3 separate regions of the Homo sapiens genome follow, and regions 2 and 3 are each linked to region 1. Evidence: fine-mapped expression QTL. A gene starts in region 1. Each other region holds a variant in brackets. All regions are shown on one strand. Distances are between the middles of the regions.

Region 1 (2,765 bases):
CGGTTCTGCCCAACATGGTAAACACAATAATCGTATAGGATCGAACACAAGTCTCTGTAAATGAGGATCCCCTTAAACGCAAACAAGCAACTCTGGGGAAATATAATTTCTGGAACAAAACATGGTGCTCGCATAATTCCACAAAGACACATAGAAGTCCATTTTTAAAATGATGTTCGGTCCCAGCACTGTGCTGACACTTTTCCCACCTAAACTTCTCAGCACAAGCCTGGCCTAAACAGCCGGGTTCCAATCCGTGCACAGTGGAACCGCGGCACGCACCCAAGACCGGAATGGTGGGGCTATACCTGTCCCTACTCAGTCCTGTTCGTGCCAGCCTGCGAGGTAGTTTAGACCCGTCTGCTTTATGGTAATGTGCTTTTAAAACCCCGCCACGACCGAGGTCATAGCTTTAGAGATTTAATAACAATCAAATGACCAGGGCTGCTGGGCACTTAGTGAGCCATTCTGGTTATGGCTCTTTAATAGCACCTGGAGTTCTGCTCCAGGGAGAGAGGAAAACTCCTGCTCCCCCGGAAAGAAAGTCCTCTGCGGAGAGCGCAGAGGGAAGCCAGGAAGCCGATCGCGGGCAGGGGACGCGCCGCCGCGGCCGCCCCATCTCTCAAGCAGCCCCAGCGCGACCCTCGCCCTGCAGCCGTGCTGGCCCAGGCCGCACCTTTACCTGTCAGCTCCACCACCCACCCGCCCTGGAGGCTGCCCCTCCGAGTCCAGGGAAAGGCTTACCAGCCGGCTGCGGGAGAAAGAACCCCAGAGGCATCCTATCCCAAAGAAAGAAAGCAAAAAGGCTGCTCCTCAAGGCAGGGGGCCATCGGGCACGCCGAGATCCGAGAGGCGACATGCCACCCCTGCCCTGCACCTACCAGATAATCCATGTACAGAAACGCCTCAGTTATTCGGAGATCAGACATCCGGCAGCCTAAAGCATCCGGAACGGCTCCGAACCCGGAAAAAAAAAGCAGCGTCTCTGGCTGCGAGCGAGCAGCTCCTGAAAAAGCCAGCAACAGCGAAAATAGCCGAAAGCAGCCGACTAGCCGGAGATTACACAAGGGGCGCGGCGATTGGCCAGGCGGGCGGGCAGAAGGAAAGAAGCGTGCTCATTGGCTGCGGCGCCTATAAAAGGCAGGCCCCAGCTGGTGGCAGGAGAGAAACGCGGGAGTGGTGGGGGATGTGGGTTCCTGTGTGCTGAGCGGAGGAGCCGGGGTGGGGGCGGTGCAAGCGGAAGAAAGAGCCAAGAGAGCGGAAAATCGGCTGGTGCTGTCGCCGCCCGAGTTTTGTGTTTCCACAGCTTTCCAGTTGGGTACAACGGAGCCGAACTCCGTGTTCCCGGGCTGGAGAGCCTTGGTGTCCCCGCCAACCCCCAGTAGGAAGCGAGCGCTGTAACATGGGAGGCGTGGTCGCCACTGATCTTGTCTCCCCCCAGAGCCTTCCTAAAGGCTCTGCCGCCACGAGACTGCACCACCGGGAAAGAAGTGTGTGAAAGTGTACTCCGTAAACAGGCAATCCTGTACGCGACTTAGGGGCAGAAAGACCCTCCGCACTTTTATCATTTGAAAGTAAGGTGGACGATTCCAGCCTGGTGTCCCTGAGGGTACACACAGGCCCCCCGCGCAGCCAGAGGTGACTCAGGAACCCCCCTTCCAACCCCTGCGTAGAACGCCGAACAGTCTTCGGAGAATTCGCTTTCCTCCACGTGAAAAGGAAAAGAAAAACATTTGAGGAGTCGCAGTAGTCACTTGTACTCCCCAAACACACGGGAAGAAGTTGATCAGTTTGCATGCTTGGAGTCAAATTACGCTCAGCACAAATCCAACGCCCCTGAATTAAATGAGCAGTAGAAGCTCTCTGCAAAAAACACAACAGTATTTGTGACCCGGTATTATTTCAGGAGGTAAAAACATCTATAAGCAGATGCATTTGGGACGTATGCATTTCCTGGTAATGTCAATATCGCATTAAGCTAGTGGGTTTGGGCAGGGAAAGCCTGAATCGGACAAGAAGCTGGCTTTTTTTTTTTTTAGGCTATAAATAACCAGACCATGCCAGACACATGTTCTTAGGCTATGTTCTTAGGCTCAGGTGATTGGAGTGCCCCCCCCCCCATCCCCACCCTCAGGGCTTAGGGAGAATGGAAGATAAGGTGGATGCTGTCACCTGTATTAATAGTTAGGGCTTGCATACATACAGTAAAGTTTCAAGAGTGAAACTTCATCGACTGAACTCTTTATGAAGTGACTGCCTGACTCTACACGCGATGTTTTAGGAGTTGAATTTTTACTTTCCCCCTGACACCTTTCTTTTTTGTATCCTCAAGAAACAAATTTCCGTACCGTAAGTTTACCTGGGACTACCAAAACAGTTCTGTTAGATGACCGTGGAATTCACCCCAAATGTGCACATAACCAATAAGGGCGAGGCAGCCCCCTAGAGGGAGCTGTAGGTTGATGAGCCAAGTGATTTTAGGTATGCAGTCTAATTTCCAAACCTGTTTCCTCAGCTGCAAAACGAGAATTCCTACAGCCAGAAAGTTGTGAGGGTTTGGGCGGGGGGCGGGGTTGGGGAAGTTGTTTTTGTTTTTTTGAGACAGGGATTCTCTCTGTCGCCCAGGCTGGAGTGCAGTGGCGCGATCTCGGCTCGCTGCAACCTCCGCCTCGCCGGCTCAAGCATCCTCCCACCTCAGCCTGCAGAGTCGCTGGGACCACAGGTGTGCACGACTACGCTCGTCTAATTTTTTGTATTTTAAGGGT
Region 2 (2,765 bases), 37 kb after region 1:
TTTCTTTCTCGAAGCACCTGGGAGGTTACGTTTGCTAAAGTTCAAAAGCCAGAAATATTGTCCATTTAGCTTGGCTAAAGTCAAGTATTAAGAAATTTTAAAAGGACTTTATTAAAGAGTGCTATGGTTAAAAGCCAGCGTAATTAAAAGTGGTATTCAAGCTCTAATGGCCTGGACTTCTTGGGAAAAACAGGAGACACTAGAGACCCTTTCCTGGCCCTGTTCTTCCAAGGACTCCACCATAAAGCCAATAACCAATTAAGAAACTTAAAAATTGGCAAATGAAAAATCTTACAACTACTGTACTAATCTTCTGTCTGTGTAGTTATATATGTGTCGTGTGTGTAATGTTTATATAAAGAGCTCTAATTAATTGGCTTAAACAAAAATAAGTGCTTAAATCAAATATTTTGAAAGAAAAATAAAAACTGTAATGCCTTTTAGTTTACATAACTGTACTAATCTTTAGGAAATAAGAACAGCTTTAAAAATTATTGGCAAAATTTAAACATTTGGTCTAAATTATGCAGGTCAGATATTAAGTTTACTAAATGCTTTCAGGTCATAATCAGCTTCTTTGACTTTTGAAAGTTGTTCAATTTACTTACCTTGGATATGTTAGATTCTAGATGAGGCCTGAGGACATGTGGAATTAGCCATGCACCCTAGCTATGCAAAGAAGGTTGTAAAGAAGAGAGATTTTATATAAGAAAGTATATTGTATGGTAAATTCTTGTCCGAAAGTAAAATGACTGGTTGTTTAAAAAGAGGGATATTTAGGATGAGTCAGAAAGTCCAAGCATGTCATAGATTGTCTGCATAAGTTGTGAAATAATTTATGAAACGCATTTATCCAAGAAACGTACAACTTAAAGGTGATTAGGGCTCCTAAATGCTTCATAAAATGCCACTATGACTCTTAACTGTACAGCATGCCTGCTTAACAGCTATGTAAAGCCTGTGACACGTGGAGTTAGATGCTGGAAAGAGTCAGACCTTACCTGAATTTTTGTCTGGGTCCTAGGTTCCACACTGGTACGTAATTAGAATCACTTACTAACCAGGCTTTTCAGCAGAGGTAAAAATCACTAAGGGTTAACAGTATAACATGTATATGAGACTACTGAACAAAACAGTTTACATGCAAGGTGTGTAAGGAAAGTAGAATATACTTTTGGTAAAAGATTATTAGAAGTCATGGGAATTTGAACTTTTTGCCTAGATTAAACAGTTAAAGGATTGTTTTAAATTAAATAAAGCTAAAGGTTTAAACAAGTTGTGGAAGG[T/C]TTATAAAAATTAACCTTGCCGGTGGCTCACGCCTGTAATCCCAGCACTTTGGGAGGCCGAGGCAGGCGGATCACGAGGTCAGGAGATCGAGACCATCCCGGCTAAAACGGTGAAACCCCGTCTCTACTAAAAATACAAAAAATTAGCCGGGCGTAGTGGCGGGCGCCTGTAGTCCCAGCTACTTGGGAGGCTGAGGCAGGAGAATGGTGTGAACCCGGGAGGTGGAGCTTGCAGTGAGCCGAGATCCCACCACTGCACTCCAGCCTGGGCGACAGAGTGAGACTCCGTCTCAAAAAAAAAAAAAAAAAAAAATTAACCTTGCAAAAAATTCTATGAGTGAAAATACTGACTAAATTTAAAGGGGTATTATTTGGTTTTTCCATAAATTGAACATCAAAATAAAAGCACAACAGGTTTTTCTTAGAGCACTAATCTGCCCTTTAACAAAAATTGTAAAGGATTATAAAAGGTTTATAAAGTTCTTATTTTATGATCAAACTAATTAAGATTGAATACATTTGTCTGTAAGGTTTTATTAAGAATTGGGTTTGACATCAATAATGCACTAATGCAACAGTGACATTTGGCTTATTTGGTATAAAAATCATGGGAAGCATTAAAATAATGTTGAATCTTCAGGTTATATTTTAGTGATGATATTAATATATTTTCCAAAATTATATATATATATATATATAGGGATTTCTAAAACCCTAATATGTCTGAGTATATGATATCAATCATAATTAAGGTTATAATGTTAAGTTATTGTAGACCAGAGAGATAACGAAATTTCCTTGTCAATTGTGTTTTTAACTATCACTATTTAAACTCATTTCTACAATTAATTGCTTAATGCTCTTGCAGTTTCTAAAAACTCCATAAGCACACAAAAATCCCAGAATATGATGTCTTTTAAGAGGTCATGAAAGGATAGAAAGAACCCTGAAAAGCACTCTTGAATAAAGTTTTCTAACAACTTTAAAATTATATCATGGGTAAGAATTCCCCATGAATTCCCCAAGAATTGGTCTGGATAAGAACTCCTGAAACCTTAATAAAAAGACTGACTGATTTATAAAACTTCCAACTTAAGTATAAGAAAAATTAATTAAATACCAAGAAAATACTTTGCCCAATTATCATGTGAAATCAGCCAATACTAGATATACAATTTGAATGAACTCCACAGTGTAAGTCAAATTACCTATGATAACCCATTAGTTATCAGTGCTATGCTCCTAAATTGGTTAAACAACTGGTATTCATTCAATGTTAAGTATGGACTCATGAAGAATCAGGATGGCTGCCTTGTCCTTCCTGAGTCCTTAAAGCTTTTGTTATTAAAGGTTCTGCATTCCATGACTTGTCATGGAAAAGATAAAATGATCCAAATTGAATATATTGATGTGGTGATTTATAAATCGCAGAAATAGTTGAAAGCCAATGTTTGGTTCCATATTCCTGGGAAGACAATA
Region 3 (2,765 bases), 59 kb before region 1:
TATATTAAATTGAATCAGCCTATCTTCCTAATTATTAAGCATGGCTTGGAAAAGCTGAAGGAAACACAACACTGCTAATTTGCACAGAGGCTTAGAAAGTGATTCACTTGAAAGCCCCTCCCCTAATTCAGGTAAGAAGGAAGAAGATAAGTAAACAATGATGTAAAGCTTTAATTACTGGCTCACACTTTTTATGATAAAACACACACTGCAAAATTCTAAGGTGGCCAAACAACTCTTAAGCATGCTTTGAACTTTAGTGCAAAGAAAGAGATACGTCTGTAGGCTTTTGACAAACATCTAGGTATTTTCATTTAATTTTCCCACTCTTGTTTGTTGAGTATGTTTTTCCACAAGCAGAATTAAATTAAGGAAAGCCAGGCTTTTTAAAAAGTAATTGAATATTAGCATTAGTCAACAGCAACAGTTTGTAATATGGTATTTCCACTGCAGCACCTAGGGATGGCAGAAAACGGAGGCTGCTGATAAACTGTACTGGCATCTTATCTGTACCCTTACTAGATTTCTAAAGTTTATTTAAATGGTTATTCTGTATCTGTGTCTCATAAAGGGATGTCATCAGAACTGCCACCTAAGGAGCTATTCCTAAAGACCTCAGACCTACTGATTCAGAATCTCCAAGAATAAGGATCCAACAAGTAGATTTTAACTTCTTCAGTGTCCACCACACTGTCCTGTTTAAGAACACCTGTAGTGTAATAAGGTAAGCATGAAGTGTCCCCAATTAAGAACACAATCAGCTTTAGAGCAGTGGTTCTCAGCCTTGTCTGCACAATAGAATCACCCTGGAGGACATTAAAAAATCCCAATGCTAGGCCACACCACAAACCAATTAGTACATCAGAATCCCTGGGGTAAGACCTAGATATTGGCCTTTTGCTGCCCATGGGATTCCCATAGTCAATCAAAGTTGACAACCAGTGAAGCAGAGGACCACGTCAAACAACTGTTTAATGAATAAATGAAAAAGACTAATTTAAAATTCTCTGAATTTTTCCTTATTGAACACAAGAAATGATATTCCATGCTATCAGCAACATGCAGACTAGGATCAAAGGGCTATGGACCTTATAGTAACTGGAGAGATTG[T/C]CTGTGAGTCATCAGGCAGACAACAGAAACCAAACTAAGCAGGTGGCAATGTGTTAGGAAACTCCTGAATGCATTTAACATTTAGTAAAAGGATCTCGACATCACTCCAGGCAAAAGGAATGTTGATCTAGTAGTTAAGGTAAATTTTCTTTATGGAAGAGACTGCCTCATTAAGTCACCTTGTGCAATCCAGTTCATTTCTTCAAACCTTTCTGTTGCAAAATAGCATCAAGAAAGTTCTGAAGTCCAGGTTTTAGATACTTATTTTGCTCTTTTTAAAAGGAAAACACTTGCTACTTAGAAGTTCATCTATGCTTTTGCTCCCTGGACTTTCTGAAGTTTCAGCAAACAAGTCTTTAATAAAGATACCATGCATTTAACAAAGGACAAGATTTCTCTCACCAGTTTAACCACCGACAGGGTTCATGTCACAGGATGAGGGTCAATCAGGATTGGTCAAAGTGATGTCTAAAAGGAAGAAGCTGAGGCAAAATTAACATGGAGTTCATTTGGGCCAAGGCTGAAGACTGCAGCCAGGGACACTTCCAAGTTGCCTTAGGGGGTGCTCCAGAGAACTCAAGAGAGAACAAGTTTGTTTTGTTTTGTATTTTTGGAGACAAGGTCTCACTCTATCACCCAGGCTGGAGTGCAGTGGCCCAATCTCGGCTCACTGCAACCTCTGCCTCCGGGCTCAAGCAATCCTTTCACCTCAGCCTTCCGAGCAGCTGGGACCATAGAGGCGCGCACCACCATGCCTGGAATGTTTTTTATTTTTTGTAGAGACAGGGTTTTGCCATGTTGCCCAGGCTGGTCACAAACTCCTGAGCTCAGGTGATCCACCCGCCTTAGCCTCCCAAAGTGCTGTGATTACAGGCATAAGCCATCATGCCTGGCCCAGAGGTCAAGTTTTTTTTTTTAAAAAAGCAAGAATCAGGAGAGGGGACAATTACAATCATTGTTCACCAGGAATTCTCATTGTCTTACAAAAATAACATTGATTATTGGCTATACATTGTTGAACTATAGGTATACGGCATTTTATGGCTTCTCGGCAGCAGTCAGCATAGCACTCAAATAGCAAGTGGCTTCAAGAGGTAATTATTTAGCTCAAGGGGAGTGATATGACTCCTGTTTCATTCCAATGCCTCTCTTGGGCCTGAAAATTTAAAGGGGCTCACGTTCTTCAAATAATGGATTATGAAGCTGGGTCATACCACTTCCACAGGGCACCAAGAGCAGCCCAAGTAATCAACATGTAACCCCATGTAATCAACACCAGCCCAGGGAGCTGGGAGTAGAGGTTAGGAAGATTGAAGAACTGATAAAAACAAAGTACCACCAAATGAAAATCTGTACTCACTCAATTCAAACACAAGTGGGTTCCCTGCCAAGCCTCAAGAGAAAACTGGAAATAGGTTAATTTTAAAGTTACAGTTAGTTATGTAATTGACTTAAGGAATCAGATTTTTTTTTTTTCTTTGAGACAGGGTCTCACTCTGTCACCCAGGCTGGAGTGCAATGGCGTGATCACAGATCCCTGCAGCATCGACCTCGGAGCTCAGGTGATCCTCCCACCTCAGCCTCCCAAGTAGTTGGGACTACAGGTGCACACCACCACGTCCAGCTAATTTTCCCATTTTTTGAAGAGACAGGAT

Alleles and levels. Alleles are on the strand shown, and positions count from the first base shown. SD is a standard deviation of normalised expression in the study named. Not every link is listed here.
As copies of T replace C in region 3, the expression in lung of the gene that starts at base 1,023 in region 1 goes up (small effect, 0.25 SD a copy in GTEx).

What was found. PIP is the estimated chance that this variant, and not a neighbour inherited with it, causes the effect. A credible set is the group of variants that fine-mapping cannot tell apart.
Region 2: its variant is the best candidate, but not a certain one, in a credible set for the expression of ARL15 in whole blood (INTERVAL, PIP 0.56).
Region 3: its variant is the best candidate, but not a certain one, in a credible set for the expression of ARL15 in lung (GTEx, PIP 0.85).

The regions. Positions count from the first base shown.
Region 1 is chr5:54,309,551-54,312,315 of GRCh38, forward strand. ARL15 (ARF like GTPase 15) reads right to left here and starts at 1,023. Exons shown (of 5, transcript NM_019087.3): 1 at 882-1,023. The coding sequence starts at 929.
Region 2 is chr5:54,346,590-54,349,354 of GRCh38, forward strand. The region is part of intron 1 of LINC01033 (long intergenic non-protein coding RNA 1033); the gene reads left to right. Among named protein-coding and RNA genes, the nearest start is that of LINC01033, 27 kb to the left of the region's middle. The variant T/C (reference allele first, on the strand shown) is at 1,287.
Region 3 is chr5:54,251,020-54,253,784 of GRCh38, forward strand. The region is part of intron 1 of ARL15 (ARF like GTPase 15); the gene reads right to left. Among named protein-coding and RNA genes, the nearest start is that of ARL15, 58 kb to the right of the region's middle. The variant T/C (reference allele first, on the strand shown) is at 1,111.